Linked DNA regions of Homo sapiens. The protein of the gene in region 1 purifies or fractionates together with the protein of each later gene. This does not show direct contact. Each region holds a gene or a part of one and is shown on either strand. Other genes may lie near its edges. The genes, in order: TMEM204, AXL and SLC12A7.

Region 1 (2,850 bases):
CGCTCTGTGCTTTGCTCCATGGTTTAGCCTTCCCACTTTTAATTTAGAGTCTGGAGAGCCTTCCCTGCAAGCTTGACCCTCCACATAGGGCAAGGCCCTGCCAAATGCCACCCTCTGGGGACACAGAGATTAATGACTTCCCCATCTCTCTAAGAGGAATGCCAGTTCCCCAAGGAAAGTCAAGAGCGCCCTAGCCGTCTCTGTGGCTGACGCTGACCCTAGCGTGGTCCCCGGCGTGCCAGTGGAGGCTGAACAGGCCTGTTGAGTACAGGGCCACGTAGCCGATGCCAGTGGGTCCTTGGGAATCGTGCTGCCCCTCCGTGAGCATTCGAGGGCACCAGGGTAGCGGCATCTACGTGATCTGGCCAAAGGGCTCTGTCCCTTTGAGGGGTCCTGGTCACTCAACTGCCAAGGCTGCTGTTCCTCCTCGCCTTTCCCGCAGCTCCACACTGCATTCTGTTCTGTTTCACGTCTACTTTGGTCTCCTCAAACGATTAACTCAAAAAGTAATTGCGGAGAGACTTCTGGGAAGCTGTGGTCAATGGTGGGGCAAGTTCTGGCCCCGGGGAGCCTGCCCTGTGGCGGGGGAGAGCGGCCAGAGCCACCCATGGGTAAAGACACAATGACCACGGCTGGCAGGGGTGGGCAGGTGCAACTCTAAGCCGAGGCCCGAAGGATCAGCAGCAGGAGGGGCCCCTCCTCCCCAGGGCCAGTCAAGCCGGGGACAGTGGCACGAGGAGAAGCCCAGAGTAGGTGGACCCAGTGACTGAGAGGGGTGGAAAGGGCCACTGGGCCCCAGGGTGGCAGAAGGGCGGCCGCAGGTAGCAGGGGAGACCCTAAGGCGATGGGAGCCACAAGGGTGCTGAGTGCTGGGGAGACAGGATGTGAGTTTCATACAGATCAGGGTGCAGCGGTGGAGGGAGGGCCGCCTGCATCAGTATCCCCAGCAAGGTCACCCGGCACTGCTGCAGACACCTTGAAACGTCCAGCACATTCCTCACTGTCGAACCCAACTTCAGGACATGCTTGTTCACGGAAGAGCCTAAGATCAGCGGCACTTCAGTCTTCTACGGGGTTTTGTTGGGAGCTACCTATACAAAGGAGGCCACACCACACGTGCGTGGTCCGGCAGATCCGGCAAGATCAACTCTGCGGGACCTCCCACCCGGGCTGGTTGCCCTGTGTTGCCTTAGAGTTTTCTTCCCGAGGTTTTCCTAGAAAGCCACTGTAAATCCGAGCTGTGCACTCAGAAGCCTCCCGGGTGTGTCCCTGGTGATGTCCCCGGGGCCTCTCCCTGGTGACGTGTGGCCCGCGCTGTCCCCCTGCAATGACGGTACCTCCAGGTCCCCTATGTGTGGAAACTGACCCCCACGGCAACCGCAGACCGTGAGGGAGGTTGACCCTGGAAGCCATGGGGGGCACAATCCCTTTCCACTGTTCCATTCGGATGAATGATGTGTGGAACTAGAGGCCCCCTGAGATTTTAAACACGTTTCTGTAACACCCGCAAGTAGAAAGGAAGCCTGGTGAGGGGGAGAAACAGGCTGTGGCCATGGCGGGCTGGAGCCTGATGAAGGCCAGTTACTGCCGGTATAACCTCCTCCCGCCCTCGAGGGTCTCAGGGCTTGCATCGCCCCCCTGCTGGGCTGGGACTCTCCCCAAGGCTCCCACTGTCCCTGCCAAGAGCGCCCCACCCCTCCCGCTCGCCTCTGTCTCGGGTGTCCTGAGCTCTCCGCTGTGCCTGCCCTGCCTCCAGGACCACCTCCTCTGAGCCCTGACACCAGCACAACCCACACCCCACCGGCAGAAAGTGCCAGACCCCGTAAACATGAGTGGACGCTGTTCAAAGTGCCCTCATTTTCCTCACACACAACACAGGCTCATTCCTTCACCCCAGTAACACAAGCATCGATACCACACAATCGTGAGCAGAGGGCACATTCCGCACTGGTAGAAATGCCAGAAGTTTCCTTTGTTAGTATTCATTACAAAGAGAATGCTTTTTTTTTTTTTTTTTTGAAATGGAGTCTCGCTCTGTCGCCAAGGCTGGAGTGCAGTGGCGTGATCTCGGCTCACTGCAACCTCCGCCTCTTGGGTTCAAGCAATTCTCTGCTTCAGTCTCCTGAGTAACTGGGATTACAGGTGCCTGCCACCACACCTCACTAATTTTTTTTTTTTGTATTTTTAGTAGAGATAGGGTTTCACCATCTTGGCCAGGCTGGTCTTGAACTCGTGACCTCGTGATCCACCCGCCTCAGCCTCCCAAAGTGCTGCGATTATAGGCGTAAACCACTGTGCCTTGTCTAGAATGTTATTTTTAATAAAACAGAAGTATCCAGGAGCTACCCATGTATAAGAAGCTCCATGAAGTATTATAAAGAATGAACACAGAAACCAGTCACTGTCATTGTTCAGGACAAAATGGAGATAGATAAATGCTTAATTCATACTTTCTGGAGGGTACAGTGATGATGAAAAGATAATGCTTGGGTTTTTAGGAAAAACAAGGCTGGTTACCCATCTCTTGCTCTCTGTCTCTCCTTCCCTGTGTCTCTGTCTCTGTCTCTCTCTGTCTCCATCTGTCTCTGTGTCTGTCTCTGTCTCTCTGTATCTCTCTTGGTCTCTGTCTCTCTGTGTCTCTGCCTGTCTCTCTGTGTCTCTGTCTCTGTGTCTCTGTCCCTGTGTCTCTTTTTCTCCCATCCTCTCTCGATGCTGGGGCCACACAGGGCAGGGCATGATTTGGTTTCCTGGGGAATGCAGGGGAGGCGGTTGGGAGTGGAGAGACCGGCATGAACAGACGCACAGGTGTCAACATGCAGGCCAGGCGGAGGGACAGCAGTGGGGCTCGGC
Region 2 (3,649 bases), on another chromosome or scaffold:
TCATGGCAGACATCGCCAGTGGCATGGAGTATCTGAGTACCAAGAGATTCATACACCGGGACCTGGCGGCCAGGAACTGCATGTGAGTGCCTTTCAGGGACCCCCCCCCCCCAACTGCTCCTGCACTCCCTGAGGGAGTTCCCTCCCTCCTTCTTAGGATGGAAGCAGGGCTAGACACCCGCTGAGGGCAGGTCAGAACTCAGGACCAGGAAAGTCAGTAAGGGGGTCTGGGAAGGCTTCCTGGAGGAGGTGAGTCCTGAACTGAGATCTGGAAGGAGCATTTGGATGCGGAGAGGGAAGAGACCAGAAGGTGGGCTCAGTGCACAGCATGAGGTGAGCAAAGGGGCTGAGGTGACCGATGGGGGTGGGGACACGTGAGCTGCATCTCTGTCCCACTCCATGCTGGGTGTCTTGCCTGGGGCTGCCCTTTGGAAGCGGCCACACTGGATAAGAAAATCAAACTCCCCACCAATGGACAAGCAGAAAATATGCCAGATGGGGTGCAGTGGCTCACGCCTGTAATCCCAGCACTTTGGGAGTCCGAGGCGGGTGGATCACTTGAGGCCAGGAGTTCGAGACCAGCCTTGGTGAAACCCCCTGTCTACTAAAAGTACAAAATTCAGCCTGGTGCGGTGGTGTGCGCCTGTAATCCCAACACGAGAATTGCTTGAACCCAGGAGGCGGAGGTTGCAATGAGCCGAGATCGCATCACTGCACTCCAGCCTGGGCGACAGAGCAAGACTCTGTCTCAAAAAAAAAAAAAAAAAGAAAGAAAGAAAGAAAGAAAGAAAAAAGAAAATAGTAACCTGTAGTCCCAGCCATTCCCAAGGCTTAGGTGAGAGGATTGCTTGAGCCTCGAGACCAGCCTGGGTAACAACAACGAGACACCATCTCAAAAAAAAAGAAAAAAAGAAAAGAAAGAACAAAAAATCCCCCAAAAGCCAGAATAGAGGGTAAGGGGAGGGTAGAAGGTGGAGGGAATGGAACCACAGAGTTAGAATATTAGTCTTGGCCAGGCGCAGTGGCTCACATCTATAATCCCAGCCCTTTGGGAGGCTGAGGCAGGAGGATCACTTGTACCCAGGAGTTCAAGACCAGCCTGGGCAACATAGTGAATCCTGTCTTTACAAAAAATAAATTAGCTGGGCATGGTGGTGTATACCTGTGGTTCCAGCTACTTGGGAGGCTGAGGTGGAAGGATTGCTAGAGCCCAGGAGGTTGAGGCTGAAGTCAGCCATGATGGTATCACTTCACTACTGCCTGGGCAACAGGGCAAGATCCCATCTAAAAAAAAATTGATGTATATTTTACATACACTAAAATATACACATGCAGCTCAGCTCGATGAATTTTTATGGGTATAGACCCATGTAACCACTAGATGAAGGTAAAGAATATTTCTTAGCCCCAGCAGGCTCCTTCATGCCTCTTCGTCTTCCCAATCACTACCGCCAAGTGGTACCCACTATCCTGACTTCTCAGTGCTAGTTTAGCCTGTTCTGAAAAGTCATACAAATGGGATCATGCAGTTTGTACTGCTTTGTGTCTGGCTTCTATGGCTCAGCATGATGTTTTTGAGATGGATCTGTGTAGGGGTAGTTTGCTCTTTTTCTTTGCTGTGTGGTATGGTATTCCATCATATGAATGTCCTGTGGATTTTCTTTTCTTTTTTTCTCTTTCTTTCTTTTTCTTTCTTTTCTTTCTTTTTCTCTCTGTCCTTTCTTCTTTCTTTTCTTTCTCTTTCTCTCTCTTTATCTCCTTCCTTCCTTCCTTCCCTCCCTCCCTCTCTCTTTCCCTTTCTTTCCCTTTTTTTCTTTCTTTTCTTTTTTGTTTTGACAGAGTCTTACTCTGTCCTTTAGGGTGGGGTGCAGTGGCATGATCATAGCTCACTGTAGCCTCCAACTCCTGGCTCAAGCTATCCTTCTGCCTCAGCCTCCTAAGTAGCTGGAACTACAGACATGTGCCACCATGTCCAGCTAATTTTTAAATTTTTTTGTAGAGACAGGGTCTTGCTTTGTTTTCCAGGCTGGTCTTGAACTCCTAGCCTCAAGTGATCCTCCCACCTTGGCCTCCCAAGGTGCTGAAATTACAGGCTTGAGCCACTGTGCCTGTTTTTTTTTTTGTTTGTTTTTGAGACGGAGTCTCACTCACTCTGTTGCCCAGGCTGGAGTGCAGTGGCGTGATCTCAGCTCACTGCAACCTCCGCCTACTGGGTTCAACTGATTCTCTTGCTTCAGCCTCCCAGGTAGCTGGGATTTCAGATGTGCACCAACACACCTGGCTAATTTTTGTACTTTTAGTAGAGACAGAGTTTCACCACATTGGCCAGGCTGGTCTCAAACTCCTGACCTCAAGTGATCCACCTGCCTTGGCCTCCCAGAGTGCTGGGATTACAGGCGCCAGCCACCATGCCCAGCCATGTTCTGTTTCTTAATCTGGGTGCTGGTTACATGGGTGTGTGTGTGTGTGTGTGTGAAAATTCAGTGAGCTGCTTACTTATGACTTGTGCACATTTCCATATGTACAGTATACTTCAAGAAAAAAAAATTTCATCAAGGAATCAAACCCAAGGAAGGACCTTAGAATCTAGCAAAGAGCCAAAATTGGGAAGTCCTGAGGAAGCCCTTTGTCCCATCCTCACTTGACAGAGTGAACAAGAAGTAAAGCAGTTCCCTTCTGGACTGGGATGAAGGTTTAGGAGACAGATCCCCACCCGCAGCCAGGACAGTGAGGGGAGGAGGTGCAGATGTGTCTGAGAGCCAGGGCAGGCTTCCTGGTGGAGGTGACTGATGCCCTGACCCTGTTCCTTTCCCCAATCCAAACAGGCTGAATGAGAACATGTCCGTGTGTGTGGCGGACTTCGGGCTCTCCAAGAAGATCTACAATGGGGACTACTACCGCCAGGGACGTATCGCCAAGATGCCAGTCAAGTGGATTGCCATTGAGAGTCTAGCTGACCGTGTCTACACCAGCAAGAGCGATGTGGTAGGTGCACTCCCGCCAAGAGTGGGGAACCATGGGAGGGCATGGCCTGACCATCACACACTATGCCTGGGTGGCTGTGGATGCAAGGGTCACAGGGACATGTGGGCTTCCCTTTGCAGGGGCTTGTCCACATGGGCTGGGCATGTCTTGGGGTATGGTGGGCATCTCTGAATAGTGGTGTGTACATGCCCAGGATAAATACAGGCCCACGTGTGCATGGTAGCAATGTAGACAGTTTAGGTTAGAAGAAGCTGCAGTGATTATGCGTGCATGTGCGCACACTCATAGAATGTGGACAGCCAGGGTGTGCAGAGTGGCACATGAGCTCATGTGTCCATGAAGTGTGTATATGTGTGTGATGGTGAGCATGTGTATGCATCCACAAAAGTTACTTATTCATGTGTATACCCGTGTCAAGTATTTTTTATATATATATATTTTTCTTTTTTTGAGATGGAGTCTCGCACTGTCACCCAGGCTGCAGTGCAATGGCATGATCTCAGCTCACTGCAGACTCTGCCTCCCGGGTTCAAGCAATTCTCCTGCCTCAGTCTCCCGAGTAGCTGGGATTACAGGCGCCCACCACCATGCCTAGCTAATTTTTGTATTTTTAGTAGAGACGGGGTTTCACTATATTGGCCAGGCTGGTCTCAAACTCCTGACC
Region 3 (3,649 bases), on another chromosome or scaffold:
CTGTACGTGGAAAACAGTCTACACAGGGCCGTAGCGTCAAGCATCGGCAGGGGGTCTCAGGACGGGTCCCCGAGGGGGAGGGCAGCTGTGCTTCCCTAAAACGGGCTTGTGGGGTTGCAGCTGTTCTGCCTCCCTCTGTTTTGAGGCCTCTATGAGGCTGTTCCTTCAGGGGCTCCCTCCACGCAGAGACGGCAAAACCGCGGGAGCCTCAAGGGGCTTGGCTGCTGGCCCTTTCTGGACCTGCTCCCTGCGGGCTCTGGTGGCCACTCCCATGTTCCAGGACCCTGGGCCGCCTCCCAGCTGCTCCTCCAAAAGGACAAGAAAAGAGCCCCTCCAAGCACCTCTGGGAGGGAGAAGACACCCAGGCCCCAGCAGCAGCCAGGGCCACACCCATGACGCTCACTGCACCTGACCGTGCTCAGGGCCACCGGCCACCCCTGAAACCTGCCAGACCCCTCACCAGCCCTCCTGCCACTGAGGAGGGTCTTCATGCTCAGACCCGGCCACGAGGGTACCTCGGCCCACCTCACCGTTGGGTTTCCTGTAATCCCCAGAACGAGCCCACGGGGGTTCCCGCCACGGTCACACCCAGCCCACCCCTTGCGGGGAGCTCGGCGTCAAGGATGATGGACGAGAGGCGGGCAGAGCCCATGGGACCTGGCCCCAGCCCCACACCCACCCACGGCTCAGAGGCCCCGAGACTCACGGGATGTCCGGGGGGTCGAAGGCAGACTTGATGACGCCGGCATAGATGGCCAGGATGGACAGCACGACGCAGGCCAGGAAGACCAGCGCCAGCTTGTTGACATACTTGACGCCCACGAAGACCACCAGGGCCATGAGCACGAGCGTGCACGTGCCGTACACACGCATGTTGTGCAGCATGGCGGCCGCCTCGCCACCTGCAGCCTCCGCCTGGAAGATGGCCGCACCCGGGGAGATGTACGTCTGTGGGAACAAGGCCGGTCGGGAGGCCGTCCCCGGACACAACTCCCCAGTGCCCGTCCCTCCCGCAAGCCCCCAGCGCCACACAGGGGCCTCCTCCCAACAGGTGCCGGGGCCATCGGGACGCATCCGTGCTGGACGGAGCCCGCGGGGGTCAGCGCACAGGCAAGGGACGGAGCCCGCGGGGGTCAGCGCACAGGCGAGGGACGGAGCCCGCGGGGGTCAGCGCACAGGCGAGGGACGGAGCCCGCGGGGGTCAGCGCACAGGCCATGGACAGCCAGGGGCCTGAACGTTTCCCAGGAACCACCCGGGAGCCTTAGAGTAAAGCAACTTCAGGACCCGGGGCATCCGCATGTCCGCACTCAAAAGAAACACCTTCTGCTAAGAGGAATGTGACTGCTGCCCAGAGAGCTCGGCCCACCCCGGCTGGACGTCCTGGACACACACAGGGTCTGACCACGCCGGCGGGGGGCAACCTCTGTTCTGCCCAGATTCAAGGGAAGGGACGGAGACGTGAGACAGTGCTGCTCAGCTCCCTCAAGACCAGGACAGGACTGGGGTGCAGCAGGCATGGAGGGCATGGCACCCACCCCCACCAAAGGGGATCCTGGGAGTGCGGCAGCCACGGCACCCGGGGCAGGTGGAAAGATGGAGGGACATGGCCAGGGGACTCGGGTTGGGACGGGTGTGGGTGCGACCCCACTGAAAGGTTTCAGAACCTTCTTGGCCATGTGGCTCTCTTCAGGAACCCAGGAGGCCAGGAACCAGGTCTGGCAGCAGAGGGAGGGGCAGAAAGACTGGGGACAGGGGCTCAGGTGAGCGTCTCTGAAGCCCTGCAGGGACAGCGGGTTTCAGAACCTCAGCAGGAAGGACAGCACCCGTCGGCCAGAGAAGGGCGGTTCCCGTCCCCACGAGGACCAAGGAACTCAGGCCACAGCTCTCAGCTGTGCTCAGGTGATGTGGGACATGCTTTGAGCATGCCTGTTTTGAGAAGGTGATGACATCACCTGGTTGTACATTGCTGGGCTCTGGGACCCTCGGCCAAGTGCCCAGATCAGGCAGAGAAGAGGCTGGGATCCTGGCAAAAGGTTCTTCTAAGCCGAGTTCCAGCCCTGCTCCTAAAACAGCTCCGACTGCAGGACTGCACCTACGCGGGGCTCAGATCTACAGTCCAGATGTCTACCCAGCTCATGCCAGGCACGCCTCACGGAGGGCAGCAATGGTGCTCAAGGGGGACACAGGTCGCTGCTGAGTGGACGCTGCCCAGTGGCTTCCGCCATGGCCAGAGCCCAGGAGAGCCCAGGGGCAGCCAGGGCAGTGGGGTCAGGATGGCTCAGTGTGCTGTGTGTGCCACAGAGTGGGTCAGGCAGGGCCCCTTGGCATCCTGCCACAGACTGTGGGGTGGGAACCCTTCCAAAGCAGCACACTTACCAGAAAAATCTCGATGGTCCCCAAAATATACATGGCCCCTGCAAACGTCGTGCCCAGGTAGAAGCAGAGGCCGACAGCGCCTCCAAACTCGGGTCCCAGCGAGCGCGATATCATGTAGTAGGACCCGCCAGCTGCGGAGACAAAGGCGGCAGCCGCGGGTCAGGGGCGCACTTGGACTCGGACCCGAGGTGCGGTCTGCGCTGCCATTCACGGGCAAAGGAGGGCCTGTCTCTGCGAAGGCAGCGTGTAGACCCTCGTCCACCCGCAAAGCAGCACATGGAGACGCTTCCACGGTGAACTCTCCCCTCCCGAGGCTCGGCACACGTTCCACACCAAGAGCACGCGCTCTCATGGACATGAGGACCAGGTGAGATCAGGGATAAGGCTCTCTGGGGAGCAGGAGGCCCCAGCAGGTCCCAGAAAAAGTCCCGCGTACATCAGTGGCAGCCCCAGCCCCCACTTCCACTAAGTTTTGCTTATGAAAAAGGCAAAAGAGAAACTAGGATGTTCAGGAGTCGTCTCGTGTACTGTGAACCACGCACGCTATCACTGGCGGGAAAGCCGGGCGCAACCCCAGGGCTGCCTGGAGAACACAGCTCTCCCTGCTCTGAGCAGTGCGTGTGGCATGTGGAAGGGGTCCTAATGGACGCGGCCATCGTGAAGCAGAGACTGGTCCCTTGGCTGCGGAGGGAGACCCCTGGTGAAGGCCCTCGTGCTCTCCTGAGGCCGGGGAAGTCCGCTGAGCACCAAGCGATGCCCCCGTGGGGATGGGGACCAGCTGCGTGAGGACCTGGTGCTGAGCAAGCCCAGCCGTTAACACGCGCAGCACACATGCACTCAGAAGCAGACGTGGCAGCGTCTCCGTTCACTAGTTATTTCGTATCGTAATTCGTTTATTACTAATTAACAGTATCATCTCAGTTTACTAGTTATTACGTATTGTAATTAACTTATTACTAATTAATATCATCTCGGTTCACTAGTTATTTAGTTATTATGTATTGTAATTAACTTATTACTAATTAACAAGGTCAGGGCAGTGTTTTGTCTTCACCTTCCCTCGTGAGATACAGGTTCCAAGAACTCAGCCTATGGCACACGCTGGGCTACAGGAGCCACTGGAATCGCCCGTGCCTCCCCCTCCCCAGCCCGCTGCCTGGTGGGCACTGCCTACCCTGGCAAGAGACGGTCACCACGCAGCAAAATGGGGAAGAAAACCAAACAGCCGTGACCTCACGGCTCAAACGCCAGAGGAGCCAGTGGAGAACACGC

What was found.
Region 2: the proteins of TMEM204 (region 1) and AXL purify together in Homo sapiens (affinity purification with mass spectrometry; one large-scale study listed by BioGRID and IntAct). This does not show direct contact.
Region 3: the proteins of TMEM204 (region 1) and SLC12A7 purify together in Homo sapiens (affinity purification with mass spectrometry; one large-scale study listed by BioGRID and IntAct). This does not show direct contact.

What each region holds. Positions count from the first base shown.
Region 1 is NC_000016.10:1,550,649-1,553,498, forward strand, and holds part of TMEM204 (transmembrane protein 204), read left to right. Parts: intron 1-2,295; exon of another isoform or gene 2,296-2,850. UniProt on the Homo sapiens protein: Can influence paracellular permeability. Appears to be involved in cell-cell interactions through adherens.
Region 2 is NC_000019.10:41,253,627-41,257,275, forward strand, and holds part of AXL (tyrosine-protein kinase receptor UFO isoform 1 precursor), read left to right. Parts: coding exon 1-82; intron 83-2,825; coding exon 2,826-2,985; intron 2,986-3,649. UniProt on the Homo sapiens protein: Receptor tyrosine kinase that transduces signals from the extracellular matrix into the cytoplasm by binding growth factor GAS6 and which is thus regulating many physiological processes including cell survival, cell proliferation, migration and differentiation.
Region 3 is NC_000005.10:1,084,526-1,088,174, forward strand, and holds part of SLC12A7 (solute carrier family 12 member 7), read right to left. Parts: intron 2,509-3,649; coding exon 2,378-2,508; intron 949-2,377; coding exon 707-948; intron 1-706. UniProt on the Homo sapiens protein: Mediates electroneutral potassium-chloride cotransport when activated by cell swelling. May mediate K(+) uptake into Deiters' cells in the cochlea and contribute to K(+) recycling in the inner ear.